Homo sapiens: one gene and its partners. The gene in region 4 interacts genetically with the main gene of each other region. Each region holds a gene or a part of one and is shown on either strand. Other genes may lie near its edges.

The links.
Region 1: changes in MAX (region 4) and SSBP1 together harm fitness more than expected from each alone (negative genetic interaction), as found in Homo sapiens cells (one large-scale study listed by BioGRID).
Region 2: changes in MAX (region 4) and PSMD6 together harm fitness less than expected from each alone (positive genetic interaction), as found in Homo sapiens cells (one large-scale study listed by BioGRID).
Region 3: changes in MAX (region 4) and MED9 together harm fitness less than expected from each alone (positive genetic interaction), as found in Homo sapiens cells (one large-scale study listed by BioGRID).
Region 5: changes in MAX (region 4) and CDK12 together harm fitness less than expected from each alone (positive genetic interaction), as found in Homo sapiens cells (one large-scale study listed by BioGRID).
Region 6: changes in MAX (region 4) and METAP2 together harm fitness less than expected from each alone (positive genetic interaction), as found in Homo sapiens cells (one large-scale study listed by BioGRID).
Region 7: changes in MAX (region 4) and SDHC together harm fitness less than expected from each alone (positive genetic interaction), as found in Homo sapiens cells (one large-scale study listed by BioGRID).

What each region holds. Positions count from the first base shown.
Region 1 is NC_000007.14:141,736,881-141,741,157, forward strand, and holds the start of SSBP1 (single-stranded DNA-binding protein, mitochondrial precursor), read left to right. Parts: upstream 1-1,477; 5' UTR 1,478-1,530; exon of another isoform or gene 1,531-1,713; intron 1,714-1,726; exon of another isoform or gene 1,727-2,118; intron 2,119-2,243; 5' UTR 2,244-2,286; coding exon 2,287-2,310; intron 2,311-4,277.
Region 2 is NC_000003.12:64,016,995-64,020,494, reverse strand, and holds part of PSMD6 (26S proteasome non-ATPase regulatory subunit 6), read left to right. Parts: intron 1-1,053; coding exon 1,054-1,199; intron 1,200-1,457; coding exon 1,458-1,677; intron 1,678-1,787; coding exon 1,788-1,896; intron 1,897-3,500. UniProt on the Homo sapiens protein: Component of the 26S proteasome, a multiprotein complex involved in the ATP-dependent degradation of ubiquitinated proteins.
Region 3 is NC_000017.11:17,480,000-17,483,499, forward strand, and holds part of MED9 (mediator of RNA polymerase II transcription subunit 9), read left to right. Parts: intron 1-3,500.
Region 4 is NC_000014.9:65,092,518-65,096,017, reverse strand, and holds part of MAX (protein max), read left to right. Parts: intron 1-1,706; exon of another isoform or gene 1,707-2,202; coding exon 2,203-2,310; exon of another isoform or gene 2,311-2,386; intron 2,387-3,500. UniProt on the Homo sapiens protein: Transcription regulator. Forms a sequence-specific DNA-binding protein complex with MYC or MAD which recognizes the core sequence 5'-CAC[GA]TG-3'. The MYC:MAX complex is a transcriptional activator, whereas the MAD:MAX complex is a repressor.
Region 5 is NC_000017.11:39,513,486-39,516,985, reverse strand, and holds part of CDK12 (cyclin-dependent kinase 12), read right to left. Parts: intron 1,256-3,500; coding exon 1,178-1,255; intron 1-1,177. UniProt on the Homo sapiens protein: Cyclin-dependent kinase that phosphorylates the C-terminal domain (CTD) of the large subunit of RNA polymerase II (POLR2A), thereby acting as a key regulator of transcription elongation.
Region 6 is NC_000012.12:95,508,652-95,512,151, forward strand, and holds part of METAP2 (methionine aminopeptidase 2), read left to right. Parts: intron 1-3,243; coding exon 3,244-3,347; intron 3,348-3,500. UniProt on the Homo sapiens protein: Cotranslationally removes the N-terminal methionine from nascent proteins. The N-terminal methionine is often cleaved when the second residue in the primary sequence is small and uncharged (Met-Ala-, Cys, Gly, Pro, Ser, Thr, or Val).
Region 7 is NC_000001.11:161,361,544-161,363,706, forward strand, and holds the end of SDHC (succinate dehydrogenase cytochrome b560 subunit, mitochondrial isoform 1 precursor), read left to right. Parts: intron 1-785; coding exon 786-890; coding exon of another isoform or gene 891-997; 3' UTR 998-1,663; downstream 1,664-2,163. UniProt on the Homo sapiens protein: Membrane-anchoring subunit of succinate dehydrogenase (SDH) that is involved in complex II of the mitochondrial electron transport chain and is responsible for transferring electrons from succinate to ubiquinone (coenzyme Q).

The DNA of each region.
Region 1 (4,277 bases), on a different chromosome or scaffold from region 4:
ATGACCCTGTGTAGGCCTAGGCTAATGTGTGTGTTTATGTCTTAGTTTTTTTAAAAAATGGCTAAAAAGTTAAAAAAAAAAAGAAAAAAAGCAAAGGTAGAAAAAAGCTTGTAGAATAAGGATATAAGAAAAATATTTTTGTACAGTGGTACAGTGTGTGTTTTAAGCTAATTGTTATTACAAAACAGTTAAAACGTAAAAAAATTTGGAAGATTTATAAAGTTATAGTGAGTGAAAGTTTATTAAAGGAAGAAAAGTATTTTTTATAAACTGAGTGTAGCCTAAGTGTACAGTGTTTATGAAGTGTTTAGTGGGTACAATAATGTCCTAGACCTTCATGTTGGGCCACCACTCACTCATTTACTCACCCACAGCAACTTCCAGTTCCGCAAGCTCCATTCATGGTAAGCGCCCCATACAGGTGTGCCATTTTTATCTTTTATACCGCATTTGTACTGTACCTTTTCCATGTTTACATATGTTTAGACACACAGATACTTACCATGAATTACAATGGTCTGCGGTATTCAGTACAGCCCCATGCTGTCAGGTTTGCAGCCTGGAAGCAGCAGGCCACACCACAGAGCCGAGGTGTGTCCAGGCTCCACCATCTAGGTCGTCAAAGTACATTCTGTGGTGTTCGTACAGCAACAAAATCGCCTAATGACGCAATCCTCAGACCTTACCCTGTTGTTAAGGTACACATGACTCTTATTTTGTTCCTCCCGGATTTCCTGCATTAATTTTTACTTTTTAAAATATTACATTAATATATTATTTGATTGCCAGTTTTTCTGGTGCTCCCTTAAATTGCACAGCCTGCCAGCCCTTCCCTGGCTCCCCTTTCTTTTTCTGCTTTTCTTAGTGCTTCAACAGACCTGGGACGTTCTTTTTCTTTCTTTTTTTTTTTAATTTTCTTCTTTTTTTCTTTTTCTTGTTTTGTTTTGTTTTGTTTTGAGATAGAGTTCGCTCTGTTGCCCAGGCTGGAATGCAGTGGTGCGTTCACGGCTCAATGCAGCAACGACCTCCAGGGCTCAGGCGATCCCCCGACCTCAGCCTCCGGAGAAGCTTGGACCACAGGCGCGCGCCACCACGCCCAGCTAATTATATATTTTTTGTAGAGACAGGTCTCACTATGTCGCCTAGGCTGGTCACAAATGTTGCTTTTTTTTCCCTCCAGGCAGAGCTAGTCTCTGTTTTGCCTACCTCGCCCCCTCCTGGGCCCAGTTAGAAACCTCATCACATAATTTCATTTCTTTCCAAACTTGAAACCTTCTAAACTTGAAACCTTCTAAACTTGAAACCTTCCAAACTCACCACTTGGCGGCGTTGATCCATCCGCCCGCGCACAAAGAGAAGATCGCGGAACTTCAGAGTTAAGGGGAGCCGTTTCCCGCAGCGCTAGCCGGCAGTATTTCCAAGGCGCAAGTTGCGGAGTTTCTGTTTCCTTTTTCCTCTGGCGAGCTTTGCGTTCCCTGTGCGCCGGAAGTGATCCCCTGCGTGGCTGGGCTGCTCGGGTTAGATCGTCAGGTGAGGGAGGAAGGGATAGCCAGCGCGAAGGAAGTGCTGGAGTCGTGTGTTTTGGCTGCGCGTGATCCTGCGTGGGTCGGGAGGTGTTTCTGTGTAGGTGTCTGGCCCTTTCATCAGTCGTGCGGAGGACCGCGTGATTTCCTTCCAGTTCTCCTCGGTTTTCAGGTGGTGGCGCCATCTTCGGTAAAGGGTGTCCACCTCTCCCTATGGTGTGGCTGGCTAGCCCGGGGGTCTCTACGCTGCTTGGTCTTTGTTAACGGAGATGAAGGCAGTAATTTTTCAGTAACAGGTTTCAGATATAAGTCCCTTGGTGATGCTAATATTTATGGAGGCCTTACTATGCATTAAGAACTTTTTTAGAAGTTTAGAAAATGGCAGTGAATAAAGCAGATACAAATCTCTGCTCTAAGGGAGCTTGCATAGTAATGAAATTTGAGAAGACAGTGGATTGGAAGTGGGATTAACTCAGAATCAAAATTTTGTCGATGGGTTGGAGGAAGAGGAAGTTATTTGGGACCAAAAAGACATACAGGTGTGAGTTTATTTGGGAGGGAGGAAGGAATCCTCATCAGATGTGCAGGAATGTTGGTACGTTGTGGTCACAAAATTGGAGTGCATAAAAATTATGAATATAGTTAGGAATTTAGGACTGGTGAGTTGTACTTTTGCCATAAGAGGTAATGTTTTTTTCTTATTTTGTTTTTTTCCTTCAGGAAAAGCCTAAAGATTAGACTGTAAGAAAAGAAAATAGAAGCCATGTTTCGAAGACCTGTATTACAGGTAGTCACTTGTCTGTATTAATACTGAGATGTATTACTATCAGCCACAGTGATCAGAAGACTTCTTTAGGCTTTTAACTACAGGGGCAAAAGACCTTTGAGCTCACCCACCCACCTCTATACTCATTTGATATGGAGGATTGGGGACGATTTTGCCAGTGTAAATTATGTTCACTAAAACAAAAAAAAAGTTCAGGTTTATTCACACGTAATAGGAATCATTAATTTTTAAAATGTGTGTGTGTTGCTTGAATTTAACCAGTGAGAGGACATTAAAGGTCTTTAGTGACCTAAAGACTGTAGGAATCATTGTTCCAACTTTTTTCTTAAGGCATGTAGTTGCTTTTTTGACCATCTACCTCCTGTGTTGCTAAACGTTCCTCTTCCCCCATCTTTCCACACTGAAGAGAGCATCTCAAGTCTCAGTGGTCACCAGAGATTTCACTATGTAGAAAATGCCTTCTCATTCCACTTAGTATGGGTCCTCACTTTTCCAGACACTAGCCCACCTTGAGCCAGCTTAGACTACCATTTTTCCTCACTTACCACATTCGGGCACCAGCTCCTGTAGATTCTTCTTTGGCTCTCCTACTCCCCATCCTCCTGTGAAGACCAATGAAGAACCAGTTCCTCCATGACTCTGTCATTTTCCCCACCTTAATCCTATATTCTTGGATCCCCACTTTAACCTGTATGTATCTTTAATCTATTTTTTTCTGTATTGAAATGTGAAACATGAAAAAGTTATTGCTTCTTAACACTAACGTTACAGTATTAAAATGTCTTTAAATAAGAGTTAAAAGTTTAATTTAAAAAATTATCCAAGTTAAATAATCCTTTCCTAATCTTCTCCAGTAGATTTTTGTGTGCCCCAAATGAGACATTGTTATTATAAATCTCTGTGTAAGATTTATGAGGTCTAGCTTGTCTGAGCACTCAAATGACATTTCCAGAATCATGACACAGGTTCTCATTAGCAGTTTGATTCTATAGTATGTTGTACTCATATCTTTATTTTCTTATCTGCCCTCTGCTCCTAAGTTTAGTGATAGGATTAGATAGCCAACAGCACCCTGGGGATTGGTGTTTATTTGATTGGTGGACTTCTGCTTTTTATATTAACAGTACTGCCACTTCAAAAATGTTTCTCTGATAGAATGGCTAGCTCTCTGAGCTCTGAATTCAGTGATGTGTACTCCCATCTTTACAGGAGCTCTTGAAATTAAGGAGGCAGCAGAGGGCTTCGGGAAAGCAGTAGCATTGGTGTCAAGGGCCCTGGGTCCTTGAGATCACTTGCCACATACTTCCTGCAGGAGCTTGGGCAGGTGATGCAGTCTCTCTGAGGTGTTTTCTCAGCCCTAAATGGGAATAATTTTACATAACTTGTAGATTTAGTTTTAGAATTGATAATAGATAAATCCCTTAGCTGATATTCAGTAATGATTGCTGCTATTATGTGGTAGTGACTACCTTTGCTGACAGTGATGTGACTTTGACTTGGACAGTCGAGTCTTTGTGTTTAATCAAAGAACCAAATTTATTAGACCTTTTTTGATGCACTAAAAACAGGAAATTTCCTATGAAATATTTATAAAAACTGTATTAGGCTAAGCTCACTACTGAAGCTGTTTAATTTTTGCAATAGCCTTGTGAAGTAGGTATTATGTATCATAATTTTTGCTTATTTTAAAATGAAACACTTTAGATTAGTCATATTAGGTATCCTAATTCCTTTTAAGGTCTGAAGGAGCAACCAGGGGAAGGCAGTTTCATAGACACAGGGAATCTGACTTTGGAATATGTTCCTGTTGCTGTGTCAGAAAGTCATTCATGTGATTAGTTTTAGAATGTATTGTTTTGTTGGAATGTAACCTATCTCTCGTTCTCTAAACCAGCAGACCCCAACCTTTTTGGCACTGATAACTGGTTTCATGGAAGACAATTTTTCCATGGAGGAGGGGGGTGCCG
Region 2 (3,500 bases), on a different chromosome or scaffold from region 4:
ATGAGAAACTTGAAACTTTTGATTCAGGTTTTGAAGAATTTCAACAAGGACATGCTTGAATCAGTATCAGGAAGTTGTAAAATGTTCTAATATTATATTTCCTCTGTATTTATTAAATACTCTTCCAAAACGAACAACTTTTCCCCTCCTATTTACTCTCGTTTTTTATATTTTATTTTATTTAGTATTACTAAATACTTAATGGACTTAGTGGGCTTTTATTATTCACTGTTACCACTGATGAGAGTCTTATTCTTTATGGTGCTAAGTTTGTTGCAAATTTGTTAGCAGAGGCTCCGTCAAGACACTTTGTCCTTTTGACATATCTCATTAGTCTTATTTTCTGATAAAACAAAATGTCACAGGTTCACCTGTTATTTTCACTCTAATAAACGTAGAATTATCTATTTCTCCTAGGATCCCTGGTTCCTTTTAGTGGGGGATAGTATTTAAAAACCAAGATCTTAGTGCTAGGTGTATCCATTGCTGTATTCCCAGTCCCTTATAAATTTGTGAAATATAACTAATAATTACATAAACCAGGCAGACACATACTGAAAACTACCAAGTGTGAACAAATTATTTTATTCATATTCAAAGCAAAGGAAACATTCCACAGTGCTTTGAGAGAAAATTATATATTTACAAATTTAGTCATATTCTAATAGCGACTAAGATACAATTTCCAAAACCCTTCAGATGATGTTATTTTGATGTAGTGTATTGTGATTATGAGAGAAAACATTGAATATATAGAACAGAGAAAAATACTTAACAATTGTGAATATATTTTTCTTAAATTGTTTTCCTGAATCTAAGTATATGCTTGGGCATTTCTTATGTATTTTTTAAACTTTATACAGGTAGAGAAAGTAGAATAATAAACCCTTGTGTACTTATCACCCAGCTTCAACAATTAACAGTTAATGGCCATCTTGTTGTACTTCTACTCCTACCTCTTCCCTCAACCTTTGAAGAAAATCCCAGACAGCTGATAGCTTTTTTTGGAAACTTGTAGCCTTTTCTCACCTATTGCCTTGGCTTTCTTGACAGGAGGGAGCTCTGACAGCCTTTCGCAAGACATATGACAAAACTGTGGCCCTGGGTCACCGATTGGATATTGTATTCTATCTCCTTAGGATTGGCTTATTTTATATGGATAATGATCTCATCACACGAAACACAGAAAAGGCCAAAAGGTACTTTCTAAGGGTGGGATTATATTTTCTCTAAATTATGATGCTACAAATGAGAAGCTGATATAAGAAACTGCCTGTTTTGTTTACAGCTAGTAAGTTTGGTCAAATAATTGATGTACTTATTTAGTAAAATAATTTAAATATCTCCTTTCGGTTCAAGTTGTTAAAAGTTGTTTTCTCATTTCAAATAACAGACAAGTTTTTAAAACGTGGCCTTGTCTGTTTCCAGACTATGATCTTACTGTTTTTATTTCATAGCTTAATAGAAGAAGGAGGAGACTGGGACAGGAGAAACCGCCTAAAAGTGTATCAGGGTCTTTATTGTGTGGCTATTCGTGATTTCAAACAGGCAGCTGAACTCTTCCTTGACACTGTTTCAACATTTACATCCTATGAACTCATGGATTATAAAACATTTGTGACTTATACTGTCTATGTCAGTATGATTGCCTTAGAAAGACCAGATCTCAGGGAAAAGGTAATGACCAAACTTTAATACTCAAATTTAAAGACTTGTTTTTTTTGTTTAAATACACAAATCATTAAAATGTACATTTTTTTTGTATATATGTTTTTTAAAATACCTAGGTCATTAAAGGAGCAGAGATTCTTGAAGTGTTGCACAGTCTTCCAGCAGTTCGGCAGTATCTGTTTTCACTCTATGAATGCCGTTACTCTGTTTTCTTCCAATCATTAGGTAAGGATAGGGTTGATATTTTTGATTATCTGTCTTCATCTTACTCCTGATCCTATGTGCAAATAACCTAAGACGATTTTTCACCTATCTGAGAAATGTAGTGTGTAGGTAGCTGCATGTCTTTGATCAGTATTCCTAATGTGCCCAGTTTTGTTTAGAAGAAGGGTCATCAGATTGTGGCCTGCTGTATGGCCCAGGAGGTAAGAATGATTTTTACATTTTTAAAGTGTTGTTTAAAAAAGGAGGATGTGACGGAGAGCTATGTAGCTTGCAAAGCCTAAAAATACTTACCCTCTGGCCCTTTGCTGAGGGTATTTGCCAGACCCCTGGTTAAGAGTCTTAATGGGGTATAAGGCAAAAGTGAGCAAATGGTTATTAAGTATTGAGCTTCATGGGGACAGAAGTGAGGGAATTCTGAATGTGATTTGGGGTGGAGATTAATTGAACCTTGAATTCAGCAATGGGCTATTCTGTATCAATAGCTAAATAGCTAAATCTCTGTGCTGATTTGCAAATCATTTTCAAGGGCTATGGGTTAAGAAAATAATCTCTTGAACGTAATTGTATTCCTTCAAAGCTAGTTTGTAGTGATCCTGCCTTCACACATTTGCTTGTTTCTCCCTCTTGTCCCCATTCTTTCCTGGCTATTTGGTTTCCTAATAATGACCACAAACTATTAAGATGATAGAAGAATCAGCTTGCATCAAGTTGACCCAGGGGTCTTTCCCAAAACTTAAAATTTGACATTGATATATTTTGTTTATGCTGCAAATTTCAGAAGGTGTTTGGTTAAATAGATAGCTTTGGAGAAAAGTGGGAATGGACGGTTCCAAATGACGATTGTTAATGTTTTTGCAGTGGGTTTTGGCCCAGTGTTTTTGGATGCTTTCTCCATGCATATAAATTGGGCTGCTTTATGAGAATTCATAGTATTTACCTCAGGTAATGTAGGAACAGGTTTCCCGAGCATGATGAGTAACTCACTTGGCCTTATCTTCTCATACATACACACACAGTTATGTTGCTTTTGCATATAAGGTTATATTGTAGAATTGCTCTTTTCCCTTTTTTATGCTTGAGGTCTCCTGGTCATCACTCAACTCAAATATGGAGCCCTTCCCTGCTTCCCTCAGTCAGAACAAATCTTACTTCTCTGCATTCCTGGGATTCTTATTGTATGCTCCCTCCTTCAAAAAAATTGAGGGAGCCCTTCCTTGCTTCCCTCAGTCAGAACAAATCTCTTACTTCTCTGCATTCCTGGGGTTATTGTATGCCCCCTCCTTTAAAAAAACTGAGGTATAAATCACACACCATAAAATTACCTCAAGTGTACAATTCAGTGCTTTTTCATATATTGGCAAGGTTTTGCAAATATTAATAATTCCAGAACATCTTGATCACCCCAAAAGGAAACCGACACCCATTAGCAGTCACTCCCTATTACTCCTTTCCCCCAGCCCCTGGCAACCACTGATCTACTTTATGTCTGTACGAATTTGCCTATTCTGGACATATCATCTAAATGCAGTCATAAAATACGTGGCTTTTTGTGCCTGGCTTCTTTCACTTTATAATGTTCCCACATTCATCCATGTTGTAGCATG
Region 3 (3,500 bases), on a different chromosome or scaffold from region 4:
GGAAGTCTGTTTAAGAAGCAGGTCCCCACAGTCCTGTCCCACCTCCCATCCCCTCCAAGCGGCCGGGTGACTACCCTTCTTCCAACTTGGCAGATGGTTAAAAGGTTACTCTCCCGAGATTTATTCTTAGGAAGGAATAAGCCAGAGAGTACCTTGACTGTGGGACACCAGGCACACTGCAGGGGTAGGTAGGGGGAGCCATACTGAAAAGAGGGATTAAGAGAAAGTTCACAGTCTGAAGAGAGACACCACCCGAGCCTTCCCCCACCTGGCTTCTAGATTGGCAGCCAAAGAGAGTGGAAGTGCCCTCTCTATGGTGCGTGACCAATTAAGAGAAAAGACATTGGAAAAAAAAAAAGCCTAGTCAATTAATTCTGAGAAAATGAACAAGCATCACTCATTTGCAGAGCTTCCACTAAGCCTTTTAGTGTTTTATTCTTAAATATATGAGTGGATGGCCAAGGTCACTAAGCATAGGAAGAAACCCCCTGGTAAGAAAGACACGGGTCAGGCGCGGTGCCTCATGTCTGTCTGCAAGCCCAGCACCTGGGCAGGCTGAGATGGGAGGATAGCTTGAACCCAGGGAGCTGAGGCTACGGTGAGCCATGATCGCACTGCTACACTTCAGCCTGGGTGACATAGACTCTGTCTCAAAGAAGAAAGAAAGAAAGAGAGGAGACAGAGAGAGAGAGGAAAAAAGAGAAAGACAAGACAGAAGAGCAGAAAAAGCCACGTGGAGGAAACAGTAGCCACAAAGGAATGGAGTGGTTCTGCAGCTGTAAACATGAGAAGAGGCTAGGATCCAACCTGCAAACCTTCAGTATAGGCGTGTCTTTGAGTTTATAGGCAAATGAGGGAGGAATAAGGGCAGAGGAGGAAGGGAGAGGAGACCTCGTGAAGCCTGGGGGAGTCAGAAGGCTTGGTAAGAGTGATGCCAACAATGAGTCTTCAATTAGGAAAGGGAGGCAGGAGGAATGTTGGTATAGGAAAAACATGTAAGGACACGAAGCCAAGAAATAGCATCTACTCATGGGAGTCAGCTTCTAGCTTGGTGGTGTTGAGCATACATCCAAGGCAGGAAGAGGTGGCTGGGGAGGAGGGAAGAGCCAGGAAACAGAGTGCAGGTGTCTTCTGAGGGATGGGGAGCTAGTGAAACTGTCAGGCTGGAAGCCAGTCAAGACACAGTACTGGCGGGTGGAGATGAGGGCTGGGACCATGTCCGGTCCACCCAGGTGGCGCTCTCTGGCCCTGGGTCCCTTCCTTTCCTATAACTTCCCCAATGATCCTTTTATTCTTTGTTTACTTCTTGCACAGGGGTGAGTAAGGAGGTAAAATCTGAAGTAGTGAATTTAGCCTTTCTTGTTCTCATAAAGAATTCAGAGTTTTTGAAAAATTATTTAATAAAAGTAACAACTGCAAGTTTAGAAGTACAGAGAAACGTAAAATGGAAAATGTGTTCCTTCCCCCAAGTCCCCTCACCTGTAGTAACTGCTGTTAATACTTTCCTAAGTTCCTTCTGGGAATTACATATGAATGTCATTTCAAAAATTTATACAAATTGAGATCACGTCGTACTTGACTTTTTTCACTGATTAGTCTCTTTTGGCCACCTTTCCATACTGCACATAAAGATCTACCTCATTAAGGCAGCTGCAGAAAATTGCATCTTGTGGATGCAGCATAACTGATGGAACTGGTTTTCTGTTGATGGTCTTCTAGCTGTTTTTCTTATTCTTGCTATTACCAGCACAGTGCTGGGGTTAGCATCTTTGTGTAGGAGTAAGTTTATGATCAGATAAATCCCAGCAGTAGAATTGCTGGGGCATAGGGTACAAACATTTTTTATAGTGATAGTTATGCTAAATTTAGAGCACTACGTCTTTTTAGCTAACTCTTTTCCAAAATTCAGTCCTTGTAGACTAGACTGCTTCAGTTAACCTAAAATGGCCTATAAATCTGCCACCCAGAAAGCATTAAACAAAAATTAAAGTTGTAGACGGATTCTACAAGTACCCATGGATATGAAATGGAAACAGGGCCTCTCCCTTCACTCCTCCCAGCTCCCTTGCAAAGCTGTGTAATATTCCACTTTATGAACGTGCTGTCGTTTATGTAAACAGTTTCTTGCTCAAGGACACCGTCATTGTTTCTGCATTTTGCTGTTGGAATCAGCACTGCAGCAAGCATCTTTGCCCATGCTATCTTGGTGAACTCTTGGTAGTCTCTGTGGGGGTAAATTTCTAGCAATGGGATATGTGAATCTGTTTGGGTCACTATGAGCAAAGAATGCCCTGATCTATGCTTCCACCAACAGTTTTTGTGTCTTTCCCCATCACCTGCCATCACCATTAAACTTTTAACTTTGGCAAATCTCATAGGTCAGAAATGATATATTGATCTTTCATTAAGTTAGGTAAAGCATCCCTTCATAGGCGATTTTATATGTCACTTTTATTTTTCCCTATAAACTGTCCATTTCTCTGTTAGATTTTTTTATGTACAGAAAGGAAATAATGTGTGTCAAATGTACTGTAAATACTTCCTCCAGGTTGTTGCTTTTCTTTTGACTTTGTTCATAGTCATGGTTTTTCTATTTGTTTTTCATTCAGATGCATATAATTTCATGTAGTCAGATTTGTTAGGCCTTTCCCTTATGGCTTCTGAGTTTTGGTCCTACTTAGAAAGGCTTTCCCACTCTAAAATTATAGGTATTGATCTCTTTTTTCTAGAACTTTCATGGTTCCATTTTTTACTTGTAATTCTTTGAGGCTCCTGGAATTTATTTTGGTGGGAAGAATAAGGGGGCCTCGGTTAGCCACATCTTCCCACTGCTGTTTTTGAATATTTGTTATTTTCCCTGCTTGCAGTGCCACCTTTACCATGCACTGAATTCCCACATGTTTTCTGATCTACTTATGGACATTCTCTCCTTCTCCAGCACCAAACTATTTTAGTTCTTAAATCTTCATGGTACATTTAATTATCTTTTAAGGTTAATTTTTCACCCTTCCTCTTTCTTGTCAGTATTTCCCTGGCCCTTCCTTTCCCGTGGAGTTTTCTAGCAGCCTGCCTGATGCTAGATCATGATGCTTTTGTTAATGGAACATTTCGTCTTTAATCTGCTTCTTTACTTCCAAGCCTGTTGATACTACTCATTGGCCAGGTCGTTGAGCCTCGCTTTTGAGTATTATAATCAGCATTTAATTAGTCTCTTTGCCTTTATGCTTATTTTATCTTGTGAATGTTATTTGGCTAATTTTTCTTTGTTCTCCATTCTTCTCAAATTGAGCCCAAACTTAGGCCTTTACTCAGGGATCTCTGCAGACCATTTTCAGATTGTCTGCCTGAATAACCCAACACAAAGCCCACAGAGGGTCCTCTTGCTGCAGGTGCTGTTGGGTGGGCGGAGTCCTCCAGGCTGGCAGACCCTCCAGCCCCTCCACTAGAAGTGCCCACAGAAATGCTGCACAGAGCCCTGTGAACCAGAGCCTCTCCTGTAC
Region 4 (3,500 bases):
AGAGACTTGTCCATTTGAGTCCTTTCAGAGCTCAGTGAATGGGAGGGGGTAGTGCATTGTGGGGATGATTTTGGTGTTAGATTATACTTAGCTCCACCCCTTTAGTGCAGGTCCACGTGAAACCAAGTGCAACTTCATTCTAGCTGTTTGAGATTTGCAGGGCTCTCCCAGAAAGAAAACAGACAATTAGAATTTTATTTGTATCAACAAGAGGGATTGTGGGTAATTCTGGTGCACAGCTCTTAGCTGGGAGGAGGGCCAAGAATCAGGGTGATTTAGTAGACAGGAGTATCTTGGGCTGCTCTGGAGACCAAAGATGGGCAATTAATTTGCATGTAAATAAACCACCTTAGGTAGTATATAGCAAACAGGAGCCGCAGACACATGCCAAATATTGTCTCTTGGCCTTTAAGCTCCTTAGGTATAGTCGCAGCCCAACTTATCTTTATGTAGATGATCAGAGGGAACAACAGTAAGTTCAAAAGGACTAGATACTTAAATAGGTTCAATTCTGTCGCACTATTTCATGCTACTGTTAGAAGGCATCTATAATTTTGCGCTAAAGTTGTATGATACAGAGTACCTACCTCTACCCTCAGGTTATGTGGTGTTCCAAACTTGACTGTCCTCTCAGCTTCATATTTCATGTCACTATAGTTCAGTAAACATTCATTTTACAGTGAATCCAGACTTAACAAGATTAGGACAACTTTAGAAGTGCTCCAGGCATCTGCCCCAAAAAGAGAGATATGCTATGGAGAACCATGGTTGTCATGGGAACCACATGTCCAGTTCAACAGAGCTGTAGGTGAGGTATTATGTTTAAGAGACCAGGAAGTAACTCAGATGACTACAGGTGCTCCCAGTCTCCTCTTCCTCTGTAATGACTGGGACTTTTAGGATTAAATAACAGGAGAATTTCAAGTCCTTTCGTTTTCACAACTCTTGATAGATTTTTGTCTGTACATCTTCTCTAGTACAAGGATTAATGTGAGGCAGCATTATTCTTGTGCTAAGCCAAGTTATTTACTCTTGTTCCATTTTTTGAATTTCTGGCCCTCTGTTTGTATAGATTTAAGCTACCTGAACTTCCCATGTACAGACTGGCTCTCTAGATTAGCTCAGTGCAACGTTGTGCATTCAAGGTGAATGTTCAGAGCATAATTTCCGTAATTCCTAGAGTGTAGGTGTGATGAAGTTCTTCTTGCTTTGGGTTGTTTGTGTTCCATTTGGAGGGGAGACCCCTCTGATGGGGACCTGCTGAAGTGCTCTTATCATGCTCTCCAGCGCTATCTCTTCTGCCTGAAGCCAGAGCATTTTGCCATTCCTGATTTGGTGTTGGCAGTTTTGGTCCATCTCCAGCTGACCGTTCTTTGTGATTCCAAGCAGGCTAAGGCTTTGACTTGGATATTTAGATACTGCCAGTTAGCCTGACCTGCCACAGGTACCTGAGAGAATTTATTCTGAGTATGTGGTGTCAGAAGTTGTGCCCTCTAAGAACTGCCTGTCAGGCACTGCCTGTGTGCAAGGAAGCCCTTGGCAGGATAGCACCTTGGATCTACTTTTAAAAAATAGGAACTCAGAATTCAGTTGTCATCTTATCAGCTCTGTCATAATGATCTCAGATTCATGCATCTAGGTTTTATAGAGGTTTTAGCTTCTGTTGTATGATTTGGTGAGAAGGTCTTAAACTAGTGCCTTTTAGTGGGCTTGGGACTCATGGTGATGGTTTCACATTAAAGAAGCACCAGTGACTTAACTCTTTCTTCCCCTGGACACCCATCTGGGGAATCTCTTACAGTGGAGGTGATCACATCTTAAGAAGGGGCCACTGGAGCTTTCTCTAGTCACTTCCTAACCACAGACTGGTGGCTCTTCTGTCACATAAGCAAGTTGGGGGGGACCACTGATGTTACAGGAGAGTCACACTTTGTCCCCCTGAATAACTTTTATTTTACTTATGCATGAGCTGGATGCATCGAGCTACTTTGGATGTTCCTGTCGCAAGCGTTGCTCACCCCTTTCTCCCCCTTTAGCAGAGCCTAATTCTGGAGACTCCTAACTGCCCACCTCGAGAAATCCTTCCCAGTCCACTCGCCAGGGACAGTGCTGACAGCGTGTACTTCCAGGCTGTACCCCACCCACCTTGTACCAAGCAAAAGGAGTGACATTCCTAATGTGTTCTTTCTCCCATTCTTCTAGGCTGACAAACGGGCTCATCATAATGCACTGGAACGAAAACGTAGGGACCACATCAAAGACAGCTTTCACAGTTTGCGGGACTCAGTCCCATCACTCCAAGGAGAGAAGGTGAGTTTCCTGAGAAAGCTGAGTAGCTGGCCACTACTAGCTTGGAACTTGTTGCAGAGCTTAGCAGAGCACTCACCTATTGGGAAGGAAATGTAGTCAGAGATATTCAGGTAGCATGGTTGCCTTATTTTTGACTGTTTGGAGGATCACTGCACACCTTACGTACTCCAGTTTATCCTTAACAAAATATGTCAGATATAATGGAGCTATTTGTGAGATAATGGTAGGAGTTATCTTTTAAAATTTGTATTATTTGTAATAAATTCAAGAAATTATAACTATACACTATAGTATAAAGAGTGGCCAAGAGTTCGTTTGGGATAACAGTAAAGATTCCAGAGGTCATTAATACCCTAGACCTCCATGAGAATTCCTTTCCTATGGTTCAAAGTTAATACTTTATTGTAAATGAGCACTTGCAGAAATGTGTGTAATGTATGTGAAAAACAACCTGGGCACCATTGATTTTCCAGCCCCAATAATTGTTATTTCCAAGGCGTATAAAGAGCATTTTAAGCTGTGGGACAAAAGACTTGAGTGAAGAGACATGTTCATGTGAAACAGAAAAAAAATAACCATTCTTCCCCACTCCCTTCTGGAACCTAGTGTTTTCCCTGGAGGGCTAGGCACCAGCTGTTTCTACATTTGAAAAACAAAATTAGAAGCTTTGAGTAAAAGCCTATGGGTTAGGGTCACTCCCTGGAATTTGGAGAAAACATCTGCATGGCTAGTTCCATCCTTGACAGAGAGTGTAGTTGTCTGTAGCAATTCATTGGAATAACTGGCAAGCTGGGAAGAGGACCTGTGTTTTTGCTTTAGTGATCCAGTGTTTTATAAAGAAGGAACTATTCTGTTAAGAACAATCTTTGCTTTTGGGTGCACTTTGATTTAGTTCTGTGGTGGGGGTCCTGGATTTGTTTGGTTATCCAAGATCAAATTTGGAACCCTTATGCTTTCATTTTTTATATTGTCACTCTGGTAAGTTATGGCCTCTATACTTTATCTAAGGTGTGGCTTTCCATGTGGCGTAAACATGGAGAAGTTCTGACCTTTATAAAGAACAAAACAGGCCATGTACATACCTGGTATTGCAAAACCAGAATTTGCCATGGGTTAAGCCTACTTAGTGTGGACTTGATTTAATGACCTTAAACCAAGGTACTTACCTGGAATAACAACCTTCCTGGGTA
Region 5 (3,500 bases), on a different chromosome or scaffold from region 4:
CACCTTTAAAAAATGTCTACATTGGCCGGGCACGGTGGCTCACGCCTGTAATCCCAGCACTTTGGGAGGCCGAGGTGGGCGGATCATGAGGTCAGGAGATCGAGACCATCCTGGCTAACATGGTGAAACCCCGTCTCTACTAAAAATACAAAAAAATGAGCCGCGTGTGGTGGTGGGCACCTGTAGTCCCAGCTACTCGGGAGGCTGAGGCAGGAGAATGGCTTGAACCTGGGAGGTGGAGCTTGCAGTGAGCCAAGATCACGCCACTGCACTCCAGCCTGGGTGACAGAGCAAGATTCCATCTCAAAAAAAAAAAAAAAAAAAAGTCTGCATTAGGCTGGTGTGGTGGCTCACGTGTGTAATCCCAGCACTTTGGGAGGTCAAGGTGGGAGGACTGTTTGAGCCCAGGAGTTCCAGCCCAGGCAACAAACATAATGAGACCCTATCTCTACAAAACAAATGAACGAAAAATAGCTGGGACTACAGGTGTAGTCCAAGCTACTCAGGAGGGTAAGGTGGGAGGATCACTTGAGTGCAGGAGTTTGAGGCTGCAGTGAACTATGATCACACCACTGCACTCCAGTCTAGGTGACAGAGCGAGACCCTGTCTAAAAAAAAAAATACAAAAAACATTAGCCTGCTATATTCTTCCCTTTAATTTTATTGAAAAAAACAAAACAAAAACAAACCCACCCAAATGCCAGCCCAATCCTGGGCTTTCCCCATATTTTCTATTATAGGTTGTATTTTATAACTATTTACATGCTATATACCTTACTAAACTCTGAATTCTTTGAAGGCGGGGACCTATTTTTTATCTCTGAATCCTAAAGTTTAATGTTAAAAGTAATCTGTTGTATAACAGGCTCAATAAATGTTTGCTGAATAAATTTAATCTCATCTGAGCTATGAATGGAAGAGCCATCCCCAAAATGGTATGCTTTTATATGAAGAGCTAATAAAAAATATGCAAAGTAAGATCTAAAAATTAGGTGAAATAAAACTTCTTTATATGTATAGCCTATGACAAAATATATGGTAAACCTGACTGAGTAAAGAGAAACTTACTTGGACATAAGAAACATAAACTCATTCAGAATGACTAGAAAGTGTTAGAAACTGGAGGATGAGAATACCTATCACACCTGGGCACTCAAGAGCACATGTACAGCTGTACCTGATCAGTTCTAGCTGAGCCAGTTCCAGATTGGCTTGAAAAATAGGCTTCTTTGTGAATAGTTCCCCAAGAATACATCTAGAAAAGGTAAAATTGAGAGGTCAGAAGAGAAATTCTTAGAGCCTATTTAAAGTGTCTCAAAAAATTTTTACATTATTGATATGTCGGATTGCAACCAAGATAAATAGCCCCAAATTTCAGTGTCTGAGTTTCCAAAGAGAAAATATTTCTTGCAGTGAAACAGACAGTATAAAGAATTTAAATTTGCCAGCAGATCAAACTTTTGCCACCTATTAAGGACACTCTATGATCAGAGAAAGGGAGTCAAGAGTCTTTTTCTATCATGCCATTGTAATTAAGGAAATAACTAAAGACAATTTTACAAGGTTGCTCAAAATTAAAGAACAATACTAACAAAAAATAAATAAACAAGGATGCTCTCTGCAGTTAGTTTCTATAAAGTTTGAATTCATTTTTGTCATTAATCTGCTCTGTAGAAGATGCACTATACTATAGCCTTCTTGGCACTGTATTTCAAATAAAATAATTTACTGTCATCAGCTAGGATCAGTTGGACTTTTTTTATTTTTATTTTTTGAGATAGAGTCTCACTCTGTCACCCAGGCTGGAGTGCAGTGGTGCTATCTCCACTCACTGCAACCTTTGCCTCCCAGGTTCAAGTGATTCTCTGCCTCAGCCTTCCAAGTAGCTGGGACTACAGGCATGCACCACCACACCCGGCTAATTTTTTTGTATTTTTAATAGAATCTAGTGAATCTAACATGAATAAATCTCAAATCATTTATGCTGATTAAAAGAGTGGGGGGAGTATATACTATATAATTCCATTTGTGTAAAATTCTAGAAATAGAAATTATAGTGACAGAATGCAGAACAGTGGTTTGCCTGGGAATGGGAGGGTACGGGTAGAGGAAAGGGATTACAAAAGGGCACAAGGAAACTGTGGTGGGTGATCATTATCTTGGCTGTGTTGATGGTTTTACTGGTGGATATGTTATGTCAAAACATATCAAAATATATGCAGTTTATTTTATACTTCAATAAAATAGGTTTAAATATTGAATGAATTTGATAAGGCTATACTAAAGTTTTCTGTACTATTCCTGTAACTTTTCCATACATTGAAATTATTTCAAAATAAAATAAAGGCTGAGCATGGCAGCTCATGTCTGTGATCCCAGCACTTTGGGAGGCCTAGGCAGGAGGATCACTTGAAGCCAGGAGTTCAAGACCAGCCTGGCAACATAGGAAGACCACATCTCAAAGATTACATGAATATCCCATACTTTTTGTTACGTGCCTGAAATTTTTCATTTTTTTAAAGTGGGGAAAGAAAAAAAAAGGTCGATGAATCTGTCTGACCTATGCTTTGAAATGAGACAAATACAAAACCAAATTTATACTTTTATTTTAAAATTCTTTAGTTTGACTTAATTTGAGAAAGCAAAACGAACCTAGCTTTTTAAGTAGCACTTTTCTGTTAGAATTTGGACCTTTAAACGAATTATGTTAAAACAACTTCAAAGACAAATTCTTACTTCCTATATTCTCTCAAACCCTATTCAGAGATGGAAAAGTGAAAATAAAATTTAGGCCAGGCTCAGTGGCTGATGCCTGTAATCCTGGCACTTGGTGAGGCCGAGGTGGGAAGATTGCTTGAGCCCAGGAGTTTGAGACCAGGCTGGGCAACGTAGTGAGATCCCAACTCTATAAAAAGAAAAAAAAAGTAAAATTTAATTCTGTTTTCAACATTAACTGCCACATCAAGTTCTAAGTGCAATGTTGTCGTCACAGCGGGTAAAATCAGAGACATTTAAAAAAGAAAAGAAGAAAAAAAAACCACTAGGTTTTCAGACTCCTGACATAATTTGCTGTACTAGTCTTTCTAGTTTCTCCTCGATTCTAATTTGCACACTGAACTGTCATACCAATTCTCTATAAAAAATCCCATAAAAATATCTTCAGAGAGACTACCATGAATCACCAAAGTAGTAAGTTCACATCAAAACTCAAACAAAATCTTAATTCAATGAGCCACTGGGCTTTGAAGAATGTCTAACTTTATGTAGTTTTAATTTCCAATTGTGTTTTTCTGTTTTCTTTTCTTTTGGTTTCCAGTCCTTTGGTGGGAAGACATCTTCATTATGTAATCAACACTTTGCTACTGCTCTGAGGTGGCAGGCTGCACAGACTGAAATAATAGTACCGAACAGAGCTATGAACTTTCCTCGTGCATCTTAATGGGGCGTTAACTTTAGAGCCTAGTTGTGACAATTTAAATGCTAATACTGTTAAAGCAAAT
Region 6 (3,500 bases), on a different chromosome or scaffold from region 4:
CTCTTTTTCCTTTCATTTTCTCCTAATTCTACAACTTGTTTGGTATGTGGTCTGCCTTTCAAGGTATGGTAGGTGACAGTTTGACTTAATGTTTTAGTCACTGCATAATAATTCCAGCCTGCAACATCGGGATTTTTAATATCTACCCTTTTACCTCTTCCATTAAGCTAGTGCAGCATTTTTGGTTTCATTATTTCAGTACCCCTCTTTTGATCCCTGTTATTTTATTGATCAGTGTTCTTAGTTTAAGGCAACAATCCATTTTTATAGTTTAAGCAGAGAGGATGTGGAAAAATCATGATAATAGGGAGATGAAGAAATGGATTCCGGGTTGAACTTTCCAGAACAAATCAAAACACATAGCACAAACGGGCCATCAAAGGAGTATCTTAATCTCCTTTGATCAGGAAGCAATAGAATTAAAAAGTGATTGTTAACAAATTACTGGTCCCAGAATTAGCCTGTGCTGTTACAACCTGCATAAGTAAAAAATGAATTCCCCTGTACCCTCATTTTTCTGTGTAACTAACATATTAGGTTGGTATGGCTAAGAAACTTTCTTTAAAAAAATTGATTGGCTTGTAAGGGTCAGTCTGCAAAGTTTGAATTTTAAAATAAGCTTGTTACTTGTCAACCTAAATAACAAACAGAGGCTCTCTAAAAGAAAATGATGTTTGGGAATAGAGCATTGCAGTGGGAATGCCATAGTAAACTTGTGCATATTCAGGGAGGTAAGGAAGACAGAGGTTTTTGAAGACGAAAATGAGGATGACATAATTGTTTTGAAATAATTATCCTTGGCTCCAAAGATTAATAACAAAAGTGACGCCAGTCGGAGGTTGGGCAGGCAGTTGTTGGGCAGATGTCCTTGCAGAAGTATTTTTTTGTGTAAGGTTGCAGTGGGCTTTGTGCAAGGTTATGGTTTTCATAGTCATTTTCATTATCAGGTGTATAAGCATGAGAACCCTCTCTTCATGGCTTTCCCTAGCTCTGTTTGAGTCTGACAACTTTGACACATTTATATAAGAAGGTTGTTGTGAAGAGTGAATTGATTTGTTTTTCTTGCTGTCCCACTAAGTTTGTAACATACTTGTTCATTGCTTCAGACTACTTAACTCTGCTCTAGAAGAAAGGTAGCTCATACTGAGGATTCTAGAGTTATAGAGTTAAATTTTTTTAAGACCTCCCCCCCAACCTTTTTTTTTTTTTTTTTTTGAGACTCTGTCGCCCAGACTGGAGTACAGTGGTGCAGTTTCATTTCACTGCAGTCTCTGCCTCCCGGGTTCAAGTGACTCTCCTGCCTCAGCCTCCCAAATAGCTGGGACTACAGGTGTGTCACCACGCCCAGCTAATTTTTATATTTTTAGTAGAGATGGGGTTTCACTGTGTTGGCCAGACTGGTCTTGAACTCCTGACCTCAAGTCATCCACCTGCCTTGGCCTCCCAGAGTGTTGGGATTACAGGCGTGAGCCACTGCACCTGGCCGTTTTTAGCCCTTTTTTAAAATTTGAAATATTAACACAAAATGCACAAAGCATAAAAACTCAGCTTCTCAATTGCAGAAGCTACGTAACCTCACTCCTCAAGAAATTGAATATTGCCAGTATTCCAGAAGACGCTCAGTCTCATTTTCTTAGTCCGTTTTGTGCTGCTACAGCAGAATACCTGAGACTAGGTAATTTATAAAGAACAGAAATTGATTTCTCACAGTGTTGGAGGCTGGGAAGATTGAGGGACTGGCATCTGGTGAAGGTCTTCTTGCTGCATCATCCTATGGCATTAGGCAGAAGGGCAATGAGAAGTTTGAGAGAGAGAGCAAGAAATGGTCAAACTTGTCCTTTACAGGGAACCCACTCCTGAGATAATGGCTTGAATTCATTGATGAGAGTGGTGCCTCCATGGCCCAAACTCCTCCTGTTAGGTCCCACCTCCCAACACCATCACACTGGGGATGAAATTCCCAATACATGACCTTTGGGGGATACATTCAAACCATAGCAGCAATACACTGCTTTCCAATTACAGCAGCCTGCCTCTAGTGAGCCACCATCTTGGCTTGTGGGGTCAGTTTGCCAGGTCTTAGAGAAATAGTAATGATGTCTGAATTTTAAAATATATTTAGCTTATCAGCACTGCAAGTATGAAAGGATTTTCATTTGCTTTTCTTTATGTCTTTACTACCTAATTATGCATCCCTAAACTAGTTTTATTGCCTAATTTTGAACTATTATATATATGTGGAATTGTACAGTATATATGTAATTGTGCCTTTTTCTGCTCATTTTGTCAGTTTTAAAACAACTGGAATAAAAAAGCTAGACGTTTTATTCCAGTTGTTAAATGTATTCCTAGCTTTTTGTTTTGATTGTTGAATGTTATTCCCTCGTGAATATGCCACAATTTGTCTATTCTGTCCTTGCTGTCATGACAGTGGGATGTTTAGATTTTCTTTCTTCTTTCTTACTTCTATTTCTTAATTACTGTGTCTCAGCCACATAGGTTTTCTTTTTGAACATTTGAAATGTTGATATAAAGTTTTATAATACTGTCATATTAACAGTATCTTTCACATTATCTTTTGGTCTGTAACAATACAAATATGTATTTTTTATGTTTCTAATAATTTGTGTACATGGCATTTTATTTGTTGTTAACAGTACCTCCTTATACCTCCTTAGATGACCTCCCTTGTGCCCTTAATCCTGTATTTCTTTCTTCCATCCTCCCTTCTAGCACCGTTTTTTTTTTTTTTTTTTTTTTTTGAGACGGAGTTGCTTTCGCCCAGGCTGAAGTGCAGTGATGTGATCTTGGCTCACGGCAACCTCCGCTTCCCGGGTTCAAGTGATTCTCCTGCCTCAGCCTCCTGAGTAGCTGGAATTACAGGCCCCCACCACCACACCCAGCGAATTTTTGTATTTGTAGTAGAGACAGGGTTTCGCCATGTTGGTCAGGCTGGTCTCGAACTCCTGACCTCAGGTGATCCGCTTGCCTCGGCCTCCCAGAGTGCTGGGATTACAGGCATGAGCCACTGCACCTGGCCTACTTCTAGTATTAATAACACTGCAACTACTTTTTATATTCCACTAGATTCCAGTTTATATTAAACTACCTTAATGTAAGGTTATTTAGTAAAGCCATACCTGGTTTTTGAATAAATGCTTGAACTCTGTACCAAAATGTAAGAGATCTGTTTTTGCTTCTTGAGATCCTGAATGACTTTTATTTCCCTATTTTTTATAACAGTGAAACCAATCCGTAATCTAAATGGACATTCAATTGGGCAATATAGAATACATGCTGGAAAAACAGTGCCGATTGTGAAAGGAGGGGAGGCAACAAGAATGGAGGTATGTGTGTCACTAACATTTTACTTCCATGGAAGACATTTTTTTCTTCCAAGCAGAAGGTCATGGTAGTTAAATATATGGTTATACTGACCAGAATTAGCTGCTTATCATCCATATTCACCCTGCCAGGAATTGGGCCATTTGAATTTGCAA
Region 7 (2,163 bases), on a different chromosome or scaffold from region 4:
AGTAAACTGTAAGAGGCTGGGCGCAGTGGCTCACGCCTGTAATCCCAGCATTCTGGGAGGACAAGGCGGGCAGATCACGAGATCAGGAGATCAAGACCATCCTGGCTAACTCGATGAAACCCCATCTCTACTAAAAATACAAAAACAAAATTAGCCAGGCGTGGTGGCGTGTGCCTCTAGTCCCAGCTACTTGGGAGGCTGAGGCAAGAGAATGGCATGAACCTGGGAGGTGGAGCTTGCAGTGAGCTGAGATCATGCCACTGCACTCCAGCCTGGGCGACAGAGTGAGAGTCCGTCTCAAAAAAAAAAAAAAAAAAAAAACTGTTTAGAAAGTCTTGCAGTTAAATGTTTATGAACTTTGTATGACCACAGAACTTTTTTTTTTTTGGCCCATACAATGGCTTTCAACATTCTGAGAGCAAGTGTTTGGAAGAATACACCTTGAGAAACATTAATCTAGATGTGTGGTCCTGAGGAAAAGTTGTATCTATTCATTCTGGAAGCTTTTGTATACCGTATGGGGCCTGTGGCATTCTAGAGAACATTCCTCCTACCATCACCACACAATAGAACCTGATTTTCTGTCATTGGAATAAGTGGATAATAGGTTCCATACTGTGGGTTTTGAGAAGGGTAAAGGTGGGGCATAAGGGTAGAAGCGCTTTTCTCTAGAATCATGCTGAGAGGAGATATCTATTCCTTTAGGTAGAATTACTTTCTGAGACAGGAACTGTTAATGTCCTATTTACTGAAATTCCTTTTTTTTTTTTTTGCTTTGTCCACAGATGTGGGACCTAGGAAAAGGCCTGAAGATTCCCCAGCTATACCAGTCTGGAGTGGTTGTCCTGGTTCTTACTGTGTTGTCCTCTATGGGGCTGGCAGCCATGTGAAGAAAGGAGGCTCCCAGCATCATCTTCCTACACATTATTACATTCACCCATCTTTCTGTTTGTCATTCTTATCTCCAGCCTGGGAAAAGTTCTCCTTATTTGTTTAGATCCTTTTGTATTTTCAGATCTCCTTGGAGCAGTAGAGTACCTGGTAGACCATAATAGTGGAAAAGGGTCTAGTTTTCCCCTTGTTTCTAAAGATGAGGTGGCTGCAAAAACTCCCCTTTTTTGCCCACAGCTTGCCTACTCTCGGCCTAGAAGCAGTTATTCTCTCTCCATATTGGGCTTTGATTTGTGCTGAGGGTCAGCTTTTGGCTCCTTCTTCCTGAGACAGTGGAAACAATGCCAGCTCTGTGGCTTCTGCCCTGGGGATGGGCCGGGTTGGGGGGTGGGTTGGTGAGGCTTTGGGTGCCACTGCCTGTGGGTTGCTGGCTTAAAGGACAATTCTCTTCATTGGTGAGAGCCCAGGCCATTAACACCTACACAGTGTTATTGAAAGAAGAGAGGTGGGGGTGGAGGGGAATTAGTCTGTCCCAGCTAGAGGGAGATAAAGAGGGCTAGTTAGTTCTTGGAGCAGCTGCTTTTGAGGAGAAAATATATAGCTTTGGACACGAGGAAGATCTAGAAAATTATCATTGAACATATTAATGGTTATTTCTTTTTCTTGGATTTCCAGAAAAGCCTCTTAATTTTATGCTTTCTCATCGAAGTAATGTACCCTTTTTTTCTGAAACTGAATTAAATACTCATTTTATCTTTGACTCTCCTTGAAATCTAGAGAAACCAAGAAAATGGCTGTTGGGAAGGAACCAATTTCCTCCTCTTCCCTCGGGTCTCAGGCATTTACATCCTCCCTCTCCCCGCAATCTGACCTTTACCAGGAGGGAAACAGTTCTCCTACATCTCATCATTGGAAAAGTTTTCAGGGAATCAGATAGAACTTAGCCAGAGATTTAAATATCACAGAAAAGCCTCAGAGAAGGAAGGAGAAAAAGAAAAGAAGTGACGCATGTAGAGTGCTTTTGGGTTATAGGCACCAAAATCCCATTAAGGACTGATTATAAGCTTCATGGTACAGTTCAGCAAATTATGATTCATTGAGGGGCACAGAGGACCAGTGTTGGTGACAGCTAGGGGATGATGACCTGAGGTTATAGGCTTGGGGTGAATGAAGCATAGAGTTTTTTTTTAAAAAAGAAGGGATTGTTGAAAACCTGGCAAAAATGTATAATTTAATGAGAAAACTTGCTGCTTTTAAAATCCATATAGGCCA